Homo sapiens: one gene and its partners. The protein of the gene in region 3 purifies or fractionates together with the protein of the main gene of each other region. This does not show direct contact. Each region holds a gene or a part of one and is shown on either strand. Other genes may lie near its edges. The genes, in order: MAK16, BMS1, ZBTB48, CEBPZ, APOBEC3C, UTP23 and RBM28.

Region 1 (3,291 bases), on a different chromosome or scaffold from region 3:
ATGGTAAATCCTCCAGTGAGGAGGAGGAAGAAAAGGCCCTTAGTGCGAAACACAAAGGCAAAATGCCCTTGAGAGGACCACTGCAGAGAAAACGAGCCTATGTGGAAATAGAATACGAGCAGGAGACAGAGCCCGTGGCCAAAGCCAAAACCACGTGATTTCCCTTTCAGCATTTATACCCAGGACTGAACATGCAGAACTGTTTTTTTTTTTTTTTTATCTTAAACACATACACACCTCCAGTTTTTGCTCTTTTGTGTTGTACTGAACACAATATTTGTGTTTTTATTATTTATGCCACGTCAGTGGGGCAAGAAATCTGGAGTGAGTGAAGAAAGCTAAGTTGTGAACAAGAGTGTTTTTATAGCATATGTGTTGAAGTAACAGCTTGTGCCCGAGAAACTTAACAGATGAGTTCTTGAATCTGGGATGAGATGACGGATGTAAATATTTCTAAATTTTAAATGCTACATTACTTGGTGTCCTTTTTTCTCCCAAACTTTATTTAGAAATGGAAGGAGTTCAATTTTTTCTTGTTCTACTTTCCCTATTCTTATGGAGGTAAAAGGAAAGGAAGGAAGGAAAAAGCAGCTTTCACTTACAAAGTTTCGTGTAAAAATATCTTTTTTTCTTAAATAACTCCATTCATACAAATTGGGATGGGAAGAAAATCCTTTCCTCTTGGGAAAGTAATACAAGTCTTAAGTTCCATTGTAGGGTGCGCCTTCAGAAACCTGCTGCACTTTTCTGATATAGTTCACCACTTTTCTGTCTTCACAGCTTTGGGGAATTTTGGCCAGGAGACCCTGAAACATGAAACCAAACAGGCTTTGATATTTTTTTTTTTTTAATTACTTTCCCCTTTTGCTTGATTCTTCTTCCTTGGTATCATATTCAAAGGAGGAAAGAATGGATGACACTTAGGGACAGGTCACTAAGCAGAATAGGTATTAGTTGGTTTTTTATTATTTTTAAATTTATATAGCTCTCATGTATTGAAGGTGCTACTTTAAAAACTGTGTTAATGTACTTGCAAATCTCCTGCTGGCTCATGAAACAGCAGAATTCCAGCCAAGGCAAATTCAGTTGGATCTAGGGCTTGAAAACTGCCCAAGATTAAAGAGCTAAGATGAAATAGTTTGAATAAACTGGTAAAATAACAATTCATACTATCTCTACATATTTTTAGGATATGAATTTTTTTTTCCTGCTGGGTAGATTGTCCAGTGACTTATGGCATGAATTTCTTTTCATGCTACCTTCAATCTTCAACTAAAGATTTCTAAAAGGGGTAAGAAATGAGGCAGTAGTTTATTAAATACATAGAAGTACACAGCTATTATATGCTGTGGCTTTGAGAAGTTAACTTTTGTGGAATATGAAACCAAAGGAAGAATTTCCATGTAGATAAATTAAGAATAGGGAAAAACATCTACCTAAAAGATGGTTGTCCCTAAAAAACTGGAAACATCTGAAATGCTCTATTTATGTTATTATTCCTGGGAGCTTATAGCCCATTATTTTTACTTTTTTTTTTTAATTCAGAAGACTAGAACAGAACTTAAATTTTACAAACTTTTGATCATAATGCTTTTGCCCATACTGTCTCGTCCTTAGCCCCAGTGACATGTGCTGATCCTCCTGCCTTTAGTTCTAAATGGTTCTGAATAGCTTTAAAAGATGAATAAGAAAAAAGATCAAGCTCTTTTGAGGCTAGAGGGCTCATATGGAGATCTAAAACCCTCCATGTTCATTTCCAGACTTGGTCAGGCACATACATAGTAAATTATAATCAATCATGGGAATTACATAAGGATAATGAGGCCCAACTGAAACCAAGTTTCAGTCTGCCTTACCTTTACCCGTCCTTGAGAACAGCGGTCCAGGAGAATCAGGCAGTCTGTGGCCTCCTGTAGCAGGGCGCTCTTAACAGACTCAGGTGTAAGGTTTGGATCCCTTGCTACATCACAAATCAGTTTCAAGAGGGCCTTCAGTAAGACCACAAGTCTGCAGGAAACTCTGGAATCAGGAAGAAAAGCTATGTTCATACTCTAAATCTGGATATTAAAATTGGAAGAGACTTCAAAGACTGTCAAGTGGAAAGCTATCATTTCCTAAATTAAGGAACTTAGGTCAAAGTTAAATGAAAAAGACCTAAAAACAGAACCAAAGACAGCCTCTAGATTTCTTACCCTCAAGTCTCCTGTTAGCATACTGCCTATACACACAGACACACCCTCTGCCACACTGCTCTCTTCCTTCCAGAAGCTTGGTTCTACTGTAAGCAACAGCTCCTTCATGGGCTGAGAAGGGGAAACCAGGATCTCCCCAACCAAGGGCCTATACTTTTATTTTTCAACTCTATTAACTGAACTATGCTTGGAGAGAGCCCTGAATCCTTTAACTTTAATGCCATCTTAGGCCTGGAAGTTAGAGTGAGGGAAATGAGCTTGGCTTCTGGGACTGTGTCAAGTTGAATTTTCTGTCATTTAATTTCAGATCCTAGCTCATCATCAGTGAAGTCCAGCCTACTTACTTGTAACTATTAACCTTTCTAAAAGTTTTCATCGCCTTGGTAAAGCTCCAGAAATGGACAATGCTAGTGACTGCACAATATTGTGACTGTACTTAATGCCACTGAACTGTACACTTTAAAATGGAAAATTTATATGTATTTTTACCACAATAAACAAAAAACCCTAAAAAAACTTTAATGAAAGGTGGAAAATAATTTAACTTACAATGTGAAAATACAATGTGAAATGTACAATAAATCATATTTATGGACAGATGCGTGACTGGGAGAAAAAAGTTTTCATCTCTATCTAAATACTCCTCATTTTCCTATGGTTTGGGTGCCTCTCAGCCCTCGTTATTCAACTTATAATCGGCTCTGTTTTCCATTTCCCATGCTTCACCCCCTCATACGCATACACACATATTCCTTTTCTACCTCCCTACATTTATTCACTCTCCCTTCTTGGAATCTTGGTCTCTGCTCTTTAAAGACCTGACAATCTGATTCGATTTTATTCATCCATTGATTCATTCTCTTCCAGTCCATTCATTCTTTGAATATTTGTATACCTAATACTAGGTACTGAACATACTTTGGGAGAATATAATAGATGTGGTTTTCCGTTATCCTGGAGATTATAATTCCGTAGGGAGAAAGATAGTAAACAAATGCAACCTAGTTACCAATATGACTAAGGGAAAGGTTGTCATGGGGAAATGTTACTCTGGATTCCTTGCACATTTATAAGGAAGTGAGAGAATACGGTGCAGAAT
Region 2 (3,500 bases), on a different chromosome or scaffold from region 3:
AGAGGTCAGAGAAGAGGGGATTCAGTAACACCTTTGCAGGCCTACACATAGGTGGCTTACTTTTAAAACCTCCAGCAAGGCCATCTTCCCTTGTTTGGTCATTTTTCAGTTTTCCTGAGAAATGAAGCCATCCCAAGAATCCTATGTGTAATTCTAGTATGTTCTACAACAAGAGAATACCTGGCATGTGAATTTGGCTTTTATTTTTCAAGTGTGCTCCTCTTAAATAACCATAAAGTGACACCTTCCGGTCACATTTGATGTTTGTTCGGATATCCTCTGGGTTTGTCAAATCTTCCATCCTAGAAAAATAAATTCAATCACAGCAGAAATGAATGCCAAAAGTTCCTATACCTCCTTTCATGTGTCAATGATTCATCACACTCTTGTCCATTAAGCACGTCATTTAGAAAACTAGAAAATGCAGAAATAAGGAGGCACCATTCACCATCCACCAGAGGAAAAGGGGCAGACACACAACTGTGTCTCTAGGCTGAAAGTGATATTCATTCCATAAGACACCAGACAGGGAGATGACGTCCACCTGGGGTCGGGGAAGAGTGAAGAACATATTCAGAAAATCCCTTTCTGGAAGAGGGCGAGCCTGTGCTCTGGGATTTTTACTGTGGCTTGGATTCTGGCAGGTGGAAAAAGGGAATTCCAGGCTGAGAAAACCACACGAGGAAGAGCACAAAGGAAGGAAACAGAAGGCACACACGAAGGACTCAAGCACCCGGGCATGAAGGCAGCATCACTGAAAACTGAGGCTGAACGTAGGATGGGGCCACATCCTGTAGCCTTAAATACTTCCAAGTTCTCCCATTTTCCTTAACATCTCATAATTAATTTACTCCCAAAGGCACGGCATCTTTGAGCAATGATATAAGTAGACATTTTCCATCAACTACACTTCTATCCCCCCTATTCAAATCGGCACAAAATAAATCCTATCACTGTTCTTTTTCTAGCCTTTTTAGCTTTGAAATATATGGCCCAGGAAGAAAAAGCTTAAAATCATATTTTACCTGTCTGCCAGGATATAAGGGTGAGAAGTTTGCCATGTGAGAGGCCTAAACTTCATAACTGTAATAAAACGGCCCAGATTGTGGATTTCTTGGTTTTGATATTCTCCATGCACCATTCCAGAAAGGTAGAACAGCTTGGCACCCTAAACATTAGAGGAAAATTAAAAATTAAATTTCAATTAAATTATCATCAATACTGCAACAAAATAAAAGCTCTAAACAAGAAGCAATCCTAAGAAGGGAGACTTCCAGCAAAGCCACTGTCCTGAGGCTTCCAGAGCCTTGCTGGCTTCTTTCAGGATTTATTAGAACCCCACAGAGGCAGACTGCTCTGCAGCCGAGCCGGGGCATCCATCTAAGTATGGTGAGGAGAGGGAGGTGAGGCGTCTGAGCACAGAAACGGTTCTGTGGCCAATGGTCCAGAGCAGTATAGAAAGGAAGGGGCAGTGCCTGGTCCTGTAACTGGGAGAAACTTCCGAGGTACTCTATTAAGTCCTGACCCCAAAACAGCCAGACACTGCCTGGTGCAGCAGGTACAGAGAGAGACAAATGAGATACACCAAGAGGCCCCAAACAAGCACTCTTTTGAGGGAAACCTTCCAGAAAACTGAACACACACACAAAGGAATTCAGCAGGCCAAAGACTGAACACATACACAAAGGGAATTCAGCAGGCCAGAGACTGTGAACACACACACAAAGGAATTCAGCAGGCCAGAGACTGTGAACACACACACAAAAGAATTCAGCAGGCCAGAGGCTGAACACATACACAAAGGAATTCAGCAGTCCATAGACTGTGAACACACACACAAAGGAATTCAGGAGGCCAGGGACTGTGAATACACACACAAAGGAAATTCAGGAGGCGAATCCTAGAGAGACGTTTAGTAATGTCTCTTTAGTATTTTTTTTTTTTGAGACAAGCGTCTCACTGTGTCACCCAGGCTGGAGTGCAGTGGCGTGATCTCAGCTCACTGCACCCTCTGCCTCCTAGGTTCAAGCAATTCTCACTTCTCAGCCTCCTGAGTAGCTGGGATTACAGGCGCACGCCACCACACCGGACTAATTTTTGCATTTTTAGTACAGATGGGGTTTGGTCATGTTGCCCTGAGCTCAAAACTCTAGGCTCAAGTGATCCGACCGCCTCTGCCTTGCAAAGTGCTGGGATTACAGGTGTTAGCCACTGCACCCGGCCTCTTCAGTCTATTTTAAAAGGATTATACTGTTAGTATCCAACAATTATTTCTCTTCGTACCGGGTAAACTTCCGTCCAGAACCTGTGTTTTAATCGCTTCTTTGTCTTCTTCAGTTGCTTATTATGCTTGAAGGAGTCGAGGTGGGTGAGAACTCCCATAATTTTAGGAAAGCCATGTACTTGACAGATGTTTAGAAACTCAAACGTTTCCATTTCAAACCCAAAGCTGGCATCTATAAGCATCAGTACCTAAAAGCAGAACACATAATTTCTCAAAGAAACTACCAAAACAGACCACCTACACTAAGGGTTGGCAACTGGCCACGGGCAAAATCCAGCCCATCACCTGTGTTTGTAACTAAAGTTTTATTGGAACATAGCCACATTAATTCATTTACATATTGTCTATGGCTGCCTGTGCACTACAACTGCAGAGCTAAGTAGCTGCAGAAGATATGATCCACAAAGCCAAAAATATCTACTACCTGGCCCTGGACGGAAAAGTTGCACTCCAGACTAAATCAAATGACTACACAGGCATCACCCAGACAGAGAAACCACCACCCTCTGACTTGCTCTAAAAGCCAACCCATAAGACAATGTCCACTAGGATATAAACTTCCATTATAAGAATTTTAATGTATGAGAAGTAACTCAGAAAAGGCTGGGTCTAACCTGGCCCTTACCTAAGAAATCCTAATTTAAAGAAATCAAGTTTTCTGTAAGGTATTTTTAAGCCAAATAACAGGTCTCTGGCATCCAAAGAATGGGAAGAGAGTCATAATCAATGAAATACATTAAATATGTACAGAAAACCAACCTCTTCTTTCAATCGCCTCATAGAAAAAAAAACCACAATCTGTTTTTTGTTGAGAAGTATGCAGTGGAAACCTCTATCTTATATGTTAATTTGGATAACTCAATTGCTCAGAAATTTTTTTTAAATAGCTACCAGTTTAGAATTAGGTAAAAAAAAAAACAGTAAGATTACGATGAATGGTAGTCTATAAGAAAATATAAGCAGATGAGACCAATTTTTAAAATTTAAGATGCTTCAAAGATGCAAAATAATTTCAGAATTGATTCCTGGAAATTTCTAGTTTAAGTATTAAAAACATTTCTGTTCTTATCTTTGCATAGATAACTAAAAATAACAAAAAAAATGGAAACAGAAATGCCCATCTTTGATTAAACTAGGAAACATTCAAAATCCGAAACCACAGAATATATGAAGGTGGGCTTGTGAGAAAGCACAGCTGCTACTGTGGACTGAGGCA
Region 3 (3,394 bases):
CCCGCCGAAACCCAGGCCCACTCTTCCTAGAGGCCTGTCAGCAGCCACTAGGGCCAGGGACTGTGGGTGAGGCCACTCGGACCCTGCCCCCAGTCTGTCTGGGCCTGAGAAGGGCCTGGTGTGCGGTGGGCTTGCAGCACTCAGTGATGGTCAGGCCAGGCAGGTTATGTGTTGCCCTCTCCCACCCTAGCGTCCCCACCCTCCCCAGGCAGACTCTTCCCAGCAGCAAGCGGAAGCCCGGGCAGAGGCTGCTGTCATAGGCAGAGGCCCCCGCTGATGCCGGCCCTGCTTGCCCCTCACACTGCCAGGTCTTCACGTGCTCTGTGTGCCAGGAGACATTCCGCCGAAGGATGGAGCTGCGGGTGCACATGGTGTCTCACACAGGGGAGATGCCCTACAAGGTCAGGCTTGGCCTGTCTCCAGGGCCAGGGTTGGGTGGCCCCAGGATCCTTCCTGCTGAGCCCTTTACGTGGGGTGCTGTCAGGCACCTCCCTCACAGTAGCTGTCAGGGAGCCTGCCTTCCCTGCCTTCCCTGCCTTTCCAGTGCCCCCTTATCTAGGCAGGGCTACTGTCTGCAGCCTCACCTCCAAGGTCCTTATTAGGCCCTTGTTTCTTTCCATGGAGGACAGGCTTGGCATCCTCTGGGCAGCTGAGCCCTGAGGGCCCTCCTTTGCACCATCCTTCACACCAGATCAGGGGTCCTCCCAGAATCATCTCACCGGGGCCTCCCTCTAGTTCCTGCCCTATAGCCCAAGGGTGGGTGGCAGGGTTTCATGGGTGCAGGCCGCCCTGGAGGTGACTGTGGGCCTCTTTTTCAGTGTTCCTCCTGCTCCCAGCAGTTCATGCAGAAGAAGGACTTGCAGAGCCACATGATCAAACTTCATGGAGCCCCCAAGCCCCATGCAGTAAGTGACAGGGAGGGCTGGGCATGCTTTGATGCTGGCATGAGCAAGAGTGAGCTGTGCCCAGAGTGGGCAGCCGGCCATGTACTTTCTGTTGTTCGGGGGGGTGCTTGTGGGTCTCCCAGGCAGCCCTTCCCTGCTCTCACCCTGGCCCTGGTCCCTCCCTCTGCCTGCCTGGTCTGCCTGCAGTGCCCCACCTGTGCCAAGTGCTTCCTGTCTCGGACAGAGCTGCAGCTGCATGAAGCTTTCAAGCACCGTGGTGAGAAGCTGTTTGTGTGTGAGGAGTGTGGGCACCGGGCCTCGAGCCGGAATGGCCTGCAGATGCACATCAAGGCCAAGCACAGGTGCGTGTCGCCCGTTCTCTCTTGGGGCCCAGTCCTGCTGCCAGCCCAGGCTTGCACCGGCAGGGAAGACAGAGTTTGCTGACTTTTACACAGATGAGTGTGCCCTTGGCCTCCACCCTGAATCTAGTGCCTACAGCCTCTCTGGGATAGTGGGACCTGAGGGGCAAGCAGCTATGCCAGGCAGAGAGGCTGGGGGCAGATGTTTCAGGCTCAGACAAGCCTCTGTGCCCCCGGGGCAGATTCTGAGCTTCCTTAGTTTCCTGTGACTCCTGCTCATAGATTGTCCTTCTGCTCTCGGGGTGGAGGTGGTGCCCCTTTCCTAGCACTGCCCAAGCCCTCTTTCCACCAGGCATGCTCCTAGCTGTAGCAGAGCAAGGGGGTCACTTCCCTTGGTGATGGCCTCTGCCCCATGTCCCCACCTTAACAGGAATGAGAGGCCACACGTATGTGAGTTCTGCAGCCACGCCTTCACCCAAAAGGCCAATCTCAACATGCACCTGCGCACACACACGGGTGAGAAGCCCTTCCAGTGCCACCTCTGTGGCAAGACCTTCCGAACCCAAGGTGAGGTACGCCCTGCCCCTCCCCTCGCCTCCCCATCCTGAGGCCAAGGCCACAGGCTGAGCTCTTGCCTTGTGCCTGCAGCCAGCCTGGACAAGCACAACCGCACCCACACCGGGGAAAGGCCCTTCAGTTGCGAGTTCTGTGAACAGCGCTTCACTGAGAAGGGGCCCCTCCTGAGGCACGTGGCCAGCCGCCATCAGGAGGGCCGGCCCCACTTCTGCCAGATATGCGGCAAGACCTTCAAAGGTACCTGGGCGGCCCTGGGAGAGCCATTTCCTGCTCATCCGAGTTGGAGGGTCTCTGAGGAGGAAACGCTCCTTTCTTGCCTGTGAACCTCTTTTGTGCCCCACATGGTTAGAGTTGAGAGTGGACCTGCTTTGAAGGCAGGGGTGTCCTGTGCAGTAGTGACCCTGGGTGGCACTGGAGAGCCTGGCAGGGCCTGTGCAGCACTTGTAAACCACTGGTCCCCTCCCTTGCTGCCTGTCCCAACCTCCTGCTGGGTTTCCTCGAGGGTCCCGGGGCTCCTGCATGATCCCCCACGGTGTTCTCCCTCTTGCAGCCGTGGAGCAACTGCGTGTGCACGTCAGACGGCACAAGGGGGTGAGGAAGTTTGAGTGCACCGAGTGTGGCTACAAGTTTACCCGACAGGTAGGCCAGGGCCTGGGCCCCTTCCCCTACCCTAGGATCCCCCAAAGTTCTGAGCTCACCCTCCCCGCCAGGCCCACCTGCGGAGGCACATGGAGATCCACGACCGGGTAGAGAACTACAACCCGCGGCAGCGCAAGCTCCGCAACCTGATCATCGAGGACGAGAAGATGGTGGTGGTGGCGCTGCAGCCGCCTGCAGAGCTGGAGGTGGGCTCGGCGGAGGTCATTGTGGAGTCCCTGGCCCAGGGCGGCCTGGCCTCCCAGCTCCCCGGCCAGAGACTGTGTGCAGAGGAGAGCTTCACCGGCCCAGGTGTCCTGGAGCCCTCCCTCATCATCACAGCTGCTGTCCCCGAGGACTGTGACACATAGCCCATTCTGGCCACCAGAGCCCACTTGGCCCCACCCCTCAATAAACCGTGTGGCTTTGGACTCTCGTATTTCAGCCTGACAGTCTGTTCCCGTGTCCTGGAGTTGGGGAAGTGCTGCCTTCCCACCCACGCCTTCAGGAGAGAGTAGTGCCCTGCCCGGTCCTATGTGGGCCTCAGCTCAGCTGGCAGCTTCCCCTCCTGTCAGGAAACCTCAGCTGAGCGAGGCTTGGATGGGGTTCCTTTGGGGGCCAAACCTCTGGCCTTGGCTGCTCTCCACATCTGTATTCTGTTCCTCATTACTGCAGGATTTTAGAGTGGGGAACGCTGGCCAGTTAGAGCACCAGTATTCCTATTTTAGAGCTGAGGTGATACCGGCTTCTGGAGATAGAATTCATTACTAAGCTTCTGGAGTTCAGTAGAGTGATCAGGGCCCACGGGGCTGGCCTTGTTGGGCAGAATCAAGGATTGGGCCCAGTTAGTGTAGCTGAGCACGCCTGGGGGTCTGAGGAGGGTGGGGCCCTTCCTTCAAGCAGCCTGGTCTGTGTCCAGGAGGCTTTGGTCCCCACGTT
Region 4 (3,500 bases), on a different chromosome or scaffold from region 3:
AATTTGCTAATAAGCAATTTAAAAACAATAAGACTGGAAAATATTACTCCAAGATATGCTAAAATCTTTATTCTGATGGTAAGGCACTATACTGCTATTCCATGTGGGTTTTGTAATTCCACTAGCATAGGCTTGAGGACAGACTGAGAAAAAGACTCTAAGAATTGGCACAGTTCTAATATTTTGTGCAAGTACAAAATTTTCTAAATAGCTTCATTAATAAGACCAAATAATATAAAACCCCTTAAAACAAGAAACTTCTGCTGTGGTTCAGAATAAGTAAGAAGAATGTTGGGCAGGCATGTGCATGCTGGAGGTATGTGAAAGGACAGAAAGGTCAGACAACAGTCTAGAGACAATTCTGGGTGTTCCTTGCTAATTTACAAGATAAAATATTCACCTTCATCTATGCTGGGCTATGATGAATACTGATTAACTTTTATAAACTGCTAATTACTATCAAAAAATGGCAGCATTTCAGCTCAACATGTATTGTACAGAGAAGCTAGCTGCTGGTTAAAGTAAAAGTCCAAAGCTCAAAAAGCTGCTTAAAAGAAAACACACATAACACACAATAAAAACCCTTCAGCTCCAAACGAGAAGGGAAAAGGTCCTTTTAAGTTTCTGGCTGACATGAGTATTAATTTGAATACAGGGCTATATTAAAAACCTTTAGCAGAAAAACAAACTTAAGGCTAAGGAAGTGAGGAAGACACAGTTTATGTCTTATTTTAAAAAATGCTTACCTGGAACGCTCTCACTTTCATCATCTAACACATCCATGAATGTTCCTCCATCTTCATCAACTTCAGCAAATTCTTCATCATCCATACTTCCTAAAGAAACTTCATCGTCATCCAGGTTACCAAGTTCATCATCACTACCTTCTGAATCTTCATCTAATGTGTTATCCTTAGCTCCTTTTGTTCTCTTTTTCACGTTTCTGGAAAAAAACACAACTTGTAATACAAGAGGAGGCAGTATTTTCTAAAGTAGTGTTTTGCTGACTACTAGGGCAGTAGGCTATTAAATGACTCAGAAGGAGAAAGCTTTGCAGACTGCTCAGAGTAAATAATAACGTGCTTTATAAATGTCAAAGATGAAAGTACTGTATCCACTTCCCAAACTTACTTGACTACATTTCCCCTTTATCATATAGTTCTGTGGTCTACTGTTCTGAGGGACAACAATTTGGGAAATGCTAGAAAAATAGGAAGGAGAAGATAGAAGTATGTTACCCAGCAAAATCCATATCATCCTTTCCAGAGCTGAAACAGTTATCATCTTCAAATGTGTCTGCCAGACAATACAGAAATGTGAGATACAACAAAGAATGACAAGCTTGACATATATCTTGTATCTGAATCAATTATTCTAAGTCATGATTCTGCTGTTTATGACAAGTGAACACCAAAACAATGTAAATGTTACTGTTGCTAGTGTGCCTTAATAATGTATACAAACCTGTGAAATACTGATCTTAGTTAAATCCCAAAACTAAAGAAGGATCCAGTTAATTTCGGCTCTTTCTACAGTTCTTTTATGGAAAGAGGATAAATATCAAATAAAATGATATTTAGCAATTGTCGTCCTTTTTACTCTATTAGAACTACTTAAGTGCTCATTTTTAATAGGTGTGATACAATATGTAACATCTCATGCTTGTAATTCCAGCACTTTGGGAGGCCGAGGTGGAGTGATCATCAGCCTGGGCAACACGGCAAGACCCTATCTCTATTAAAAAAAAAAAAAAAACAAAAACAACAACAACAAAAAAAAAAACAAAAAAAAAACGAGCCGGACATCATGGCATGTACCTGTAGTCCCAGCTACCCGTGGGGCTGAGGCAGGAAAATCGCCTGAGCCCAGAAGGTCTAGGCTGCAGGGCTGCAGTGAGTTGGGATTGTGCCACTGCACTCCAGCCTGGGAGACAGAGAGAGCCTGTCTCAAAACAAACAAACAAACCCCCCAAAAAACAACAACAAAAAAATATGTAACGTGAAATCAGTGTAAGTCTTTCCAATTTACCATGTTTTTTGTTTAAGTCTATTAAGTTTCAATCAAAATTTCTGTAGCTCTGTGGATTAAAGATAAAAAAGATCAAACAGTAGACTATTGCTATCAATTAGTACTGATATACTATAATAGATTATGAATAGTAAAAAGGATTTCTTTTTCACATGAGATTTGGCTGTAACAATTGAATAGACTTAAGCAAATATAAATGTTTTCTTATATAGACTATCCAAAGCACAAATCATGTATTTTTCTGGTGCAAATGTGGGTGAATTACCATATATCATAAAAATATTTGTTTCTTTTGTTTTTTTTTTGAGACAGGATTTCACTCTGTCACCCAGGCTAGAGTGCAGTGCCGTAATCTTGGCTCACGGCAACCTCTGACTCCTGGATTCAAGCGATTCTCGTGCCTCTGCTTCTCGAGTAGCTGGGACTACAGGTGCGTGCCACCATGCCCAGCTCATTTTTTGGGGTTTTTAGTAGAGACAGGGTTTCACCATATTGGCCAGGCTGGTCTCGAACTCCTGACCTCAAACAATCTTCCTGCCTCGGCCTGCCAAAGTGCTGGGATTACAGGTGTGAGCCACAGCGCCTGGCCCCAAATATTTCTTAATCTTCCACTGTGATTTGCATGATATTCTTAGCTAAGTGATTTTTTAAAACTAAGGCCACTTCTCCCACTAATGTTCCATGGTCTATTAACACATAGTAGTAGATTATTTTACAAAGAGTCAACAAAACAAATTACCAATCAGCTCTTCAAATTCTTCATCATCCACGTCTTCTATACTTTCTTCATCTGCATCCCGTTTTTGTTTCTCTTTAACAGCAACTTTTTTATAATACCTATAATATTCATGTTATATATTTGACAATTTTATTAAAGGTCTAATCTTACTATATATCATCAAAGCACCTATGACCAGTGGCAAACCACAACTGTAAAATCTTAAGTATACTCAATTGGAAATAAATGACTGAAATTTGTATCTAATATACAAAAAATAGTTTAACTCAATAAAAAGTAGCTGGAATCTTTTAAGTGTAATACATTTCAAAGATAATATTTTATCAGCCCTATTCTTATATTAGAATACAGCAAAACTTAGCCATTTACAGATGTAATCAAACCCTCAAAATTATTCATTCTAAATGATTTTAAAAAACAAGCCAAATCAAACCTAATTAACCAGTCAACCAGATGAGATAAGAGGTACTTTACTACCCTAAGGCATTAGGTTATGATACTAGTTGGTTTAGGACTTATTTCTATAACAGTGCACTGAATCCATTCTAAGGGCCATGGTCTGGATAAATTACCCATGAGTTATCACTATATTAAACTTAAAGTATTATATTAAAATCTATATTAAAGGTAGATTTTAAGCCTATAAAGAAAATTATTATAAAAGGAAATTAAAGGCTAAATTCCAAAAAGAAGCATAAAACAAAATTTATATGCTAAATTAACAAAACTCCCA
Region 5 (3,596 bases), on a different chromosome or scaffold from region 3:
AAGAGAGAAGGAGAAGGATAGAAGAAGGGAAACTCAATGAATAAAACACCCTGGGGCCTACTATGTAGCCAGAAAAATGAAAAGTAAAGAAATAAAATAAGGCTGTGCATGTGGTTTATGCTCATAGTCCCAGAGCTTTGGGAGGGTGAGGCAGGAGGATCGCTTGAGCCCAAGAGTTCAAGATCAGCCTGGGCAACATGGTGAAACCCCGTCTCTAAAAAAATTATTTAAAAAATTAGGCAGGTGTGGCGGCATGCACCTGCATCCCAGCTTATCAGGAGGCTGAGGTGGGAAGATTCCTTGAGCCTGGGAGGTCAAGGCTGCAGTCAGCCCAGATCCCACCACTGCACCCCCTAACCTGTGCACCAGAGAGAGACCCTGTCTCAAAAATGAGTAAATAAGGAAACGGCCCGGGGCTCCAGGCCCGCCCTCTGCTCCCATCGCCCCACCCCTGCACTCCTCCTGCTCCTGGTCTGAGCTCCCCTGTCCTCCTCCTCCTCCTTCGCCAGGTGGATTCTGAGACCCATTGTCATGCAGAAAGGTGCTTCCTCTCTTGGTTCTGCGACGACATACTGTCTCCTAACACAAAGTACCAGGTCACCTGGTACACATCTTGGAGCCCTTGCCCAGACTGTGCAGGGGAGGTGGCCGAGTTCCTGGCCAGGCACAGCAACGTGAATCTCACCATCTTCACCGCCCGCCTCTACTACTTCCAGTATCCATGTTACCAGGAGGGGCTCCGCAGCCTGAGTCAGGAAGGGGTCGCTGTGGAGATCATGGACTATGAAGGTGAGACGTGGGGGGCTGAGGAGAGTGGGTGCAGGAGGGACAGCATGAGGGGCAGATGGTTCTCCAATGCTGTGGGGCGGGTCAGTGTCCCCTGGGTGTCTGTGGGGACCGGGCCAGCGCCCACTGCAACTGGCAGCCTGGATACCTGGGCTGGGAGGGGAGGGCCCAGGGCCAGGAGAGAGGCCTGCTGGGCCCTCACTGTTTTCTCCTTGTTTTTTCTCAGATTTTAAATATTGTTGGGAAAACTTTGTGTACAATGATAATGAGCCATTCAAGCCTTGGAAGGGATTAAAAACCAACTTTCGACTTCTGAAAAGAAGGCTACGGGAGAGTCTCCAGTGAGGGGTCTCCCTGGGCCTCATGGTCTGTCTCCTCTAGCCTCCTGCTCATGCTGCACGGGCCTCCCCTCCACCCTGGACCCGCTCTGTTTCTGCCTGGTCATCCTGAGCCCCTCCTGGCCTCAGGGCCATTCCACAGTGCTCCCCTGCCTCACCGCTTCCTCCTCGCTCTTCCAGACTCTTCCTGCAGAGGCTCCTTTCTGCCTCCATGGCTATCCATCCACCCCCACAGACCCCGTTCCTCCAGCCTGCGTGCCCCTAACCTGGCTTTTCCCATCTCCCCAGCATAACCAAATCTTACTAAACTCATCCTAGGCTGGGCATGGTGACTCACGCCTGTAATCCCCCAGCAATTTGGGAGGCAAAGGTGGGAGAATCGCGTGAGCCCAGGAGTTCCAGACCAGGCTGGGTCACATGACAAAGCCCCATCTCTACAAAAAAAAAAAAAAAAAAAAAAAAAAAGCCAGATGTGGTGGCATGCATCTGTAGTCCAAGCTACTTGGGAGGCTGAAGTGGGAGGATTACTTGAGCCCGAGAGGTGGAGGCTGGAGTGAACAGAGATCGCGCCACTGAACTCGGGTCTGGGCAACAGATAGAGACCCTGCCTGAAAATAAATCGATAAATAAACTCAACCTAAACAGGTGTGAATATATGTAAGTTGAAAACCCGAAGTTTTGAGAAACATCCTTTGTAAATTTCATCCTATGAATTGGGTCATTCATGTCCTACCCAGCTAAAACAGAGGCCAGGAGCCAGGGAGGAAAAGCAGTCAGGCCACACAACATTGTTTCCGAAATGGACTTCTCTGCAAGCCTGACTCCTGAGACTGTGCATTGTACCCTGAAACCAGCTTTATCCATAGCTTCTGCGATAAATGGCTGTAAGTCTTGGACTCCTTGCTCCAAACGCAGCGACTCAGCAATAGAACCTCCCAGCTCCCAGCCCTTCCTAGTGCCCATGGGCTTTACATAGGGCAAGAGAACATTTCTCCTTCTATAATTGCCATCTCTTTGCTCTCTCAACATGGTGAACACCATCCGGACTCCGTGTATGTCTCAAATTACAATTCTTTCTTTGCAAATGAAATATGAAATTTAGAGGCTCTTCTAAACACTTTAAATTTGATTTGACATTTTCAAAGCAGATGTAAGTTTTAGAGAATGAGATTCTCCATAAAAATGACCCTTTCATGCTGTGGCCTCCATAGAAGATGTCCCAGGCCAGGTGCCCACATGGCAGGCATTTATTTTCTCACAGATCTGGAAGCTGCAGGTCCAACTTCGAGGGGTGGGTGGGGTTGTTTCCTCTGAGGCCGCTCCTTCTGGCTGGCAGGGAGTCTCTTCCAGCCGTGTCCTCTGTGGCCTTTCCTCTATGCACACGCACCTCTGGGATCTCTCTGCCTCCAAATATCATCTTTTTTTTTTTTTTTTTTTTTTTTGAGACAGAGTGTTGCTCCTCTTGTCCAGGCTGGAATGCAATGGCACAATCTGGACTCACTGCAACCTCCGCCTCCCGAGTTTAAGCGATTCTTCTGCTTCAGCCTCCCGAGTAAAAGGCATGCATCACCACACCTGGTTAATTTTGTAGTTTTAGTAGAGATGGGGTCTCACCATGTTGGCCAGACTGGTCTCGAACTCCTGACCTCAGGTGATCCGCCTGTCTCAGCCTCTCCAAGTGCTGGGATTACAGGCATCAGCCACTATGCCCGGCTGGGATCATATGTTCCACACATGTTTGTTCAATAAGCATGGACTGCAACCACCTACATGAATATTCATAGCTCCTCCTGTAGCCTGTTGAATATGTATGTTTAGCCAACCTCTTCAGCATAAAGCTCCTGCCCAAACCCCTCCTGCTCCTAAATGTCTGTCTCTGGTGTTAACCAGAGGCTGCTCTTCCCAGGCTGCTGGATGGCTACCTTGCAGGCTGTCACCCTTAACAAGAAATAAAGTGTCCTTTGCAAATGCATCCCTTGTGTAATTTGTAGGTCACCGCGCCATGGGAACACGCTACCATGGGAAGGGAGCTGTGAGACGCGCAGGGAGGCTCCAGACAGGCTGGCCTGGGACACCAGCCGCTGCCCTTCCATAACATGGGGACAAGAGAGGGCAAAAGTTCAGCCCAACACGGAGGATCTTCGGGCAGGAGATGGGGAAGAAGGAGAAGCAGGAAGGAAAGAGCTCAGTGTGGGGGCGCGCATGGCATCCCGGTGGGACATCTGAGGCCCACACCCACCTGCTGTCCCTCCCTCCCACGGTGGCCACCGAGGGTGAAGGCCTGGGGGGAGGCAGACGCCTGGCCCTTTACTCTCCCTCCCTGTCCCCATGGCCGCTGGGTGGGGGCCGTCTCTGGGATGATCCCCGAGGGCAGGATCCGGGAGTCCCTGCAGAGGCATCAGCCTGTCTGTCTTGATGGTGGAGTGGCGGCTCCAGCTGGGCGGGACCACCAGGGGAGGGGCTTGTGCTCTG
Region 6 (2,831 bases), on a different chromosome or scaffold from region 3:
GTAGTGCAGTGACATGATCAAGACTCACTACAATGTCAACCTCCCAGGCTCAAGTGATCCTCCCACCTCACCCTCCCATGTAGTTAGGACCACAGGCACATGCCACCACACCTGGCAATTTTTCGATTATTTGTAGAGATGAGATCTCCCTATGTTGCCAAGGCTGGTCTCAAACTCCTGTGCTCAAGTGATCCTACTACCTTGGCCTACCAAAATGTTGGGATTACAGACATAAGCCACCACACTTGGCCTTCATTTTCATTCATTCAACAAATATGTATTGACACATTCTACTCAGTACAAATTCGTGTATTATACATTCTATATTCTTATATGGAATATATATTTTTATAGAATATATTAAATGGAATATATAGAATATATCCTTATATGGAATATATAGACTATATTCCTGTATGGAATATAGGTATGGGGATAGTATTCACAAAACAAAAACAAAAACAAAAAAAAACAAAAACTGAAGTACAAGGAGATGAGACTTTTGTTAAAATATCTTTTAATTTTACCGGCAAAATACATCAATGACTAATATATTCCCGTATGGAATATATTCTTATTGGAATATATTCTTATATAGAATATATAGACTATGTATATATACATATGTGTATATACCTATATACATATATATATCTTGGAGATATAAAACTAATTGGGAATAATGTCATATATATAGATAGTAAGCAAACATTTTTTAAAACATTTTAAAGACTCCAAACTATTCATTTCTATCCACCTATAAAAAACTAGCAATTAAACCTGTCAAATCACAGCCATCTTGCTTTACGCAGATTCAGAAACATGAGATCCTTTTACCTTTGAAACTCTAGTTTCAAAGCTGTTCTAAAGTGACTTGGTTTTAATTTATATACTTGCAGGGATAAGAAGTAGCTGTAGGGCCATAAAAATGTAAAGAATACAGTATCGTGCCCATACACAACTGCAAACACTTATTTTTAAGTGTTCGTAAAAGATAGTGGTCTTCAGAAACACCCCTTTTCAGATTGGCAAACTTTCAGAGTTCAAAAGTGCATGTATTACACTTTTATCCCCAACAAAGCTAGTAGCTACCCTCTAAAGCAGAGGTTAACATTTTCTTTTTCCAAACCACAGAATGGATTATGATCCCATGTGCATACTCCCATGGTTCCCTTCCCCAAGTTGTATGAAAAAATAAAGCAAATAATTCTGAGGTTTTAGGGGTAGTGGTATAGGGATAGTATTCACACACAAAAAAACTGAAGTACAAGGATATGAGACTTTTGTTAAAATATCTTTTAAAGTAATTTTACTGGCAAAATACATAAATGATTAACCAGTTTTAAAATAGTAAACTTATTTATTTATTTATTTTTGAGACGGGGTTTCACTCTCTCACCAGGCTGGAGTGCAGTGGCATGATCTTGGCTCACTGCAACCTCCGCCTCCTGGGTTCAAGCGATTCTCCTGCCTCAGCCTCCCGAGTAGCTGGGACTACAGGCGCACACCACCACACCCAGCTAATTTTTGTATTTTTAGTACAGACAGGGTTTCACCATGTTGGCCAGGATGGTCTTGATCTCTTAATTTTGTGATCTGCCAGCCTCGGCCTCCCAAAGTGCTGGGATTACAGGTGTGAGCCACCATGCCCTGTCAAAATATTAAACTTACTAATACATTGTAATTTTTAGTACTTCTATAATTACTGCTTCATAAAAAAGTGGATTTTTCCAGCTCTCCAGTTCAGATGCTATTAACAGGTAATCAGATAGCACTGACTAAGTAGAAATAGATTAAGAGTAATACCTAAATTTAATGTATTTTAGCATATTGAAATGAGTATCATCAGTGTATATTTCATTTATCACTTTGTCTACACTTTATTAGGTGGCCTTAATGCTTGTCATTGACAAATGTTAACTTTCCTCACAAAACCTACACTATTCACTTTTTTCCAGTATTTTTACCTTCCTTATTAAAAATGTTTCTACCATCAAGAATTTAAAATAGAATCATGACATTGCAATCCAAACACTACCTTGGCTTGCCAGATTAGTCTACGTGTCACTCCTTGGTGTAAAGCTATAATTCCAACTTCCAGCAAAGAAGTATCTCTGAATTCAAATGAGAATGACATTTCTATGGGAATAAATGTGAACTGTCTCACATTTAACCATTAAGAATTTACTCATACGTCATCATGATAACCTAATGTTAGACTGAGAATCACTGCTCTAGTGTGGCTCCAGAAGCTGTCAGTCAGGAACTACTGATACGATTTCACTTGTCCAATAATTTTATACTTCCATCTTGTAGTACAAAAACATTTTAATTTTGGCCTGATAAATGACTAAAACAATTGCCGGGGGAATTCAGAGAGACACGTTTCATTATTCAATTCCTAACTGAATTGACCCTCATTGATCCTCAGACTAATTTAGACACTTTTCAATAACATTCACAGTCAATCTCAAAGAGAATATTATTTTTGAATTCTTGCTATTGAAGTTAACATTTACATCTAAAAGAAAATCATCATCCTTATTGGACAAGTAGAACTCAAACAAACAAACAAAAAAACTCTAGTCATAATAATGAAAATACTGAGTTTCTGATGTACAAAGAGTAAAATATTCATATACTGGAAAAATGGTGCAGTATAAATGGGCAAAATTTCACTCTTTCTAGTAGGAAGTCAATAAATAATTGATGTATCAAAAAGTAGCGGTATAATCATACAATTTGGAAATATAAATTCTTCAACTACTAGAATTGAAAGAGGAAGTTTCTTCTGTCAATGTGAAAGAGGGACTGCCTCTTTTTTTGTCACA
Region 7 (3,500 bases), on a different chromosome or scaffold from region 3:
ATATACTACTATGACAGTGTAAACTTTCTGGAAATACTGTATAGGACATAGGAAACTTTGAGGAAAAAACATACACATACAATCACACACAAATTATAAAATACACTACATTTTGAATGTGTATATGTGTGTGTATATGTGTGCATTTTGCTTATAAATGTATTAAAATATCTATAGATACACAAGAAACAAATAACCTTGGTTGTCTCTGGGGAAGTTCCCTAAGAAGCTGAGGATCTGGGTATAAGGGAGACTCACTGTTTGTTTTCAAGAACAGACATATAAGCTTATACATACAAAGAAAATATCTGGAAGGATGCACAAGAAACAACAGTGATTACTTCAGGGAATTGTTAGGATTGGTGAGAAACTTCTACTTTGTGTATTACACTCTTCTGTGTTGTGTTTTAACTTTTTATCATTATCATTTATCTGTCCTATAAGTTTTTTAGGTGAAAGAATGGCATGAGACAGCTGACTGTGGGTTGTAGAATACAGGATCTCAGAGTCCCTTCAGTGTAGAAGCTTCTTTGATTCTAAGGTGTATACCATTCTCTCCTCACAGAAAAAGCTTATTTCCTCAGATTTCTTATATGGTCAAACCAACATGTCAGACTTACTGAAATGGAATCAGAATAAAAACAGCTGAAATAAAAATCTCCACCCAGACAAATCAAAGAACCAGTTATTAGCCATTTCTCATTCTGTAATGACCTGCCTTCCTCAATAAACAAGTTGAATTTATTCTCAATAAAGGTAGCAATAAGGATTGGCTAAAGTTTTACAACATGTTCAAAGAGGTCCTTGTTATGGAACGCACTGTGTTCCCCCAAAATTCATACATTGAAGCCCTAACCCCAAATATAATTGTATTTGGAGACAGAGACTTTAGGGAGGTAACTGAGGCTAGCTAAATGAGGTCTTAAGGTTGGGCCCTAATCTGATAGGATTGCTGTGCTTATAAGAAAAGAGAGACCAGAGTTCACTGTTACTTGTTCTCTCTCTCCCCTCGTCAAGCCACAAAGAAAAGGCCATGCAAGCACATAGCGAGAAGGCAGCAGTCTGCAAGCTAGGAAGAGAGCTGCACCCAAAATGAATCAGCTGGCACCTGGGACTTCTAGCCTCTAGAGCTGTGAGAAAATAAGTTTCTGCTGTTTAAGCCACCCAGTTTATGGTATTTTGTTATGTCAGTCCAAACTGACTAAACAGTTCTTTATCCCCATCTCAACTCCAAGGAGTTGTTTAAAATCTAGCTTGATGTTGAGATGGTTATATCATCTGTTTCATCTATATTATCTGTATAAGATGCTGTTTACCTGGTTATTCTATCAAGTTGGACAATCCAGAGAGAGGTAGAACCTCAGCATTAAGCTAGGTTTTCAATTCCCTAAGAATCTTAACCCTCAAACACCACTCCAAAACTCACTTAAAAAACAAAACAAACAAAAAGGAAACAACAAAAAAACCTTTGGAAGAAAGGAGTATAAAGGTTTCCTTTTCAGCATTTAAACATAAATTTGATAGAACACCTTAGAGTCCTATTTAAAAAGAGATCTAAGCAGAACTGATGCTCATTTCCGTAACTTCAGTAACTTTTTTAAAGTCTAAAGACATTTATGAAAATCCAAACAAACCTTTATCCTCTTGCTCCTCAGTGCTGGTATCACTCTGAGCCAGTTCCTCTCCATCATCAATACTATCGCTTTCCTCTAGGTCACTGTCCTCCTCAGAATGATCACTGCTTTTTGCAGGGGCTGGTCTCTTGACTGCTCTGCAATGGCACAGATCAGAACTAAGGAGGTGGGCTGACAGAGGGCCTATTCAATTTCATTACACATGTCAATTCTGCAATGATGCAGGCAGAAAAAGGAGAATTTTTCCTCTCGGAGACAATCTTGAATCTTCCTCTGCTGTCTCAGAACAGGATGAGCTGCTTACCTCTTCTGAATTTGCACAGGCTTGGTCACCTTTGATTCTATATTCTCTTCCTCTTCATCTTCATCATCAAAAACCCCATCTTCTTCATCATCATCATCGTCATCATCATCGTTTTCTTCCTCTTCCATATCCTCTTCCTCTCTGCCCTTCTTTTTAACTGATTCCTGATGTTTAGATTCATGGCTCTTTTCCTCACCTATGGAGGGAGGTAAAGAAAGGAGGAATTCATTTAATATCCAAAACAATGTTATTTTAACAAAAGTAACCAATACTCCAAGTTCTTGGTTTCATCGGTTTTACAGAATTTCGTATATTTTTCTTACTGCATATAACAGGAGAAAGTATAAAGAAAAGAAAAAGCAAAAACAGAAATAAACAAAACTCTCAACACCCAGATTCCTTTAGAGTTTGTCCCATTCATCAGTCTGAAGGTTCATCTGGCCCAGACTGAAAGAAGTGGCAACTGAGCCTCTCCAAGCAGTCTACCATTCGTACATCATAGCCAGCAAAATGCTCACTAGGGGGCAAAGCCAAGCCATGAACTTTAATCTCAGTGCGTTCTATTCTCTGAGACCCTGGTGGCTTACCAGCCAATTGTTTTCTAAATAAACCTCAAGTTTTAAGTTTCTCTATTCTTAATGTTCCATCACTCCTATTATGCACAGCCTGGAAACAACAGCAAGTAAAGGGGACAGTGAACTCAGGCTCACTCACAGCCACTCCCAGGAAGGGGCTTAGACTCAAAAGAGCCTAGGTTTTGGGACCAGAGCACCAAATGGTACAATATGAATTGACAAACAGACCTGGACTCACTTCTGAGCCAGCAGGAATTCAGAGTTTTCCCTGAAAGCCCAGTCTCATTCTTTTGGTTAATCTTCCACAATAGTCTTACTCTGATAAGCAGGTTCTCTTACACTTTTTTTTTGAGACGAAGTCTCGTTTTGTTGCCCAGGCTGGAGTGCAGTGGGGTGATCTCGGCTCACTGCAACCTCTGCCTCCCAGGTTCAAGAACCTGCCTCAGCCTCCCAAGCAGGTGGGATGACAGGCGCCCACCACCAAGCCCAGCTAATTTTTGTATTTTTAGTAGAGATGGGGTTTTGCATGTTGGCCAGGCTGGTCTCAAACTCCTGACTGCAAGCAATCCACCCAAAGTGCTGGAATTACAGGCAAGAGCCACTGCACCCAGCCTTTTTCTTACACTTTTATCATGAACACAGGAGTTGTTTCAATACTCTCACCCAGGTTATACAACGCCCCTACTCACCCAACACTACCACATCTTACCTATAGCAGAAACAGACTGTGTATCTTTATATTTATCCTTTGCCACGGCCCAATCCACAGCCACTGTCCGGCCTGTCAAGCAGAAAAGTGGCATCAGAAAGGCTCTCCTTTTAAAAACCCTACCTCTGTAAATGACCCCTAGTCATCACAGACAATAATGGAACCAGTGGAGACAAAGAAACTGCCAATTCAGGGAATGCTGGTCTTAAAATAAAGCTCCTAGTCACTGCCTACTCCTTTTAACCCTTAACCTTTTTATCAATGAACAGAAATTTTGC

Evidence for each region.
Region 1: the proteins of ZBTB48 (region 3) and MAK16 purify together in Homo sapiens (affinity purification with mass spectrometry; 2 studies listed by BioGRID and IntAct, with this or other methods). This does not show direct contact.
Region 2: the proteins of ZBTB48 (region 3) and BMS1 purify together in Homo sapiens (affinity purification with mass spectrometry; 2 studies listed by BioGRID and IntAct, with this or other methods). This does not show direct contact.
Region 4: the proteins of ZBTB48 (region 3) and CEBPZ purify together in Homo sapiens (affinity purification with mass spectrometry; 2 studies listed by BioGRID and IntAct, with this or other methods). This does not show direct contact.
Region 5: the proteins of ZBTB48 (region 3) and APOBEC3C purify together in Homo sapiens (affinity purification with mass spectrometry; 2 studies listed by BioGRID and IntAct, with this or other methods). This does not show direct contact.
Region 6: the proteins of ZBTB48 (region 3) and UTP23 purify together in Homo sapiens (affinity purification with mass spectrometry; 2 studies listed by BioGRID and IntAct, with this or other methods). This does not show direct contact.
Region 7: the proteins of ZBTB48 (region 3) and RBM28 purify together in Homo sapiens (affinity purification with mass spectrometry; 2 studies listed by BioGRID and IntAct, with this or other methods). This does not show direct contact.

What each region holds. Positions count from the first base shown.
Region 1 is NC_000008.11:33,498,472-33,501,762, forward strand, and holds the end of MAK16 (protein MAK16 homolog), read left to right. Parts: coding exon 1-158; 3' UTR 159-701; coding exon of another isoform or gene 702-806; 3' UTR 807-1,856; coding exon of another isoform or gene 1,857-2,019; 3' UTR 2,020-2,791; downstream 2,792-3,291. Other genes in the region: TTI2 (TELO2-interacting protein 2), read right to left, coding at 702-806, 1,857-2,019.
Region 2 is NC_000010.11:42,789,295-42,792,794, reverse strand, and holds part of BMS1 (ribosome biogenesis protein BMS1 homolog), read right to left. Parts: intron 2,473-3,500; coding exon 2,284-2,472; intron 1,169-2,283; coding exon 1,026-1,168; intron 303-1,025; coding exon 181-302; intron 1-180. UniProt on the Homo sapiens protein: GTPase required for the synthesis of 40S ribosomal subunits and for processing of pre-ribosomal RNA (pre-rRNA) at sites A0, A1, and A2.
Region 3 is NC_000001.11:6,586,387-6,589,780, forward strand, and holds the end of ZBTB48 (zinc finger and BTB domain-containing protein 48), read left to right. Parts: intron 1-190; coding exon of another isoform or gene 191-277; exon of another isoform or gene 278-308; coding exon 309-401; intron 402-818; coding exon 819-905; intron 906-1,091; coding exon 1,092-1,246; intron 1,247-1,673; coding exon 1,674-1,810; intron 1,811-1,891; coding exon 1,892-2,056; intron 2,057-2,369; coding exon 2,370-2,458; intron 2,459-2,529; coding exon 2,530-2,826; 3' UTR 2,827-2,894; downstream 2,895-3,394. UniProt on the Homo sapiens protein: Plays a critical role in transcriptional regulation and chromatin remodeling. Acts as a regulator of telomere length. Directly binds the telomeric double-stranded 5'-TTAGGG-3' repeat.
Region 4 is NC_000002.12:37,211,097-37,214,596, forward strand, and holds part of CEBPZ (CCAAT/enhancer-binding protein zeta), read right to left. Parts: intron 2,866-3,500; coding exon 2,768-2,865; intron 2,459-2,767; exon of another isoform or gene 2,341-2,458; intron 1,584-2,340; exon of another isoform or gene 1,297-1,583; coding exon 1,239-1,296; exon of another isoform or gene 1,160-1,238; intron 944-1,159; coding exon 747-943; intron 79-746; exon of another isoform or gene 1-78. UniProt on the Homo sapiens protein: Stimulates transcription from the HSP70 promoter.
Region 5 is NC_000022.11:39,017,257-39,020,852, forward strand, and holds the end of APOBEC3C (DNA dC->dU-editing enzyme APOBEC-3C), read left to right. Parts: intron 1-509; coding exon 510-789; intron 790-1,012; coding exon 1,013-1,131; 3' UTR 1,132-3,096; downstream 3,097-3,596.
Region 6 is NC_000008.11:116,772,354-116,775,184, reverse strand, and holds the end of UTP23 (rRNA-processing protein UTP23 homolog), read right to left. Parts: 3' UTR 501-2,831; downstream 1-500. UniProt on the Homo sapiens protein: Involved in rRNA-processing and ribosome biogenesis.
Region 7 is NC_000007.14:128,333,909-128,337,408, forward strand, and holds part of RBM28 (RNA-binding protein 28), read right to left. Parts: intron 3,295-3,500; coding exon 3,223-3,294; intron 2,135-3,222; coding exon 1,939-2,134; intron 1,772-1,938; coding exon 1,635-1,771; intron 1-1,634. UniProt on the Homo sapiens protein: Nucleolar component of the spliceosomal ribonucleoprotein complexes.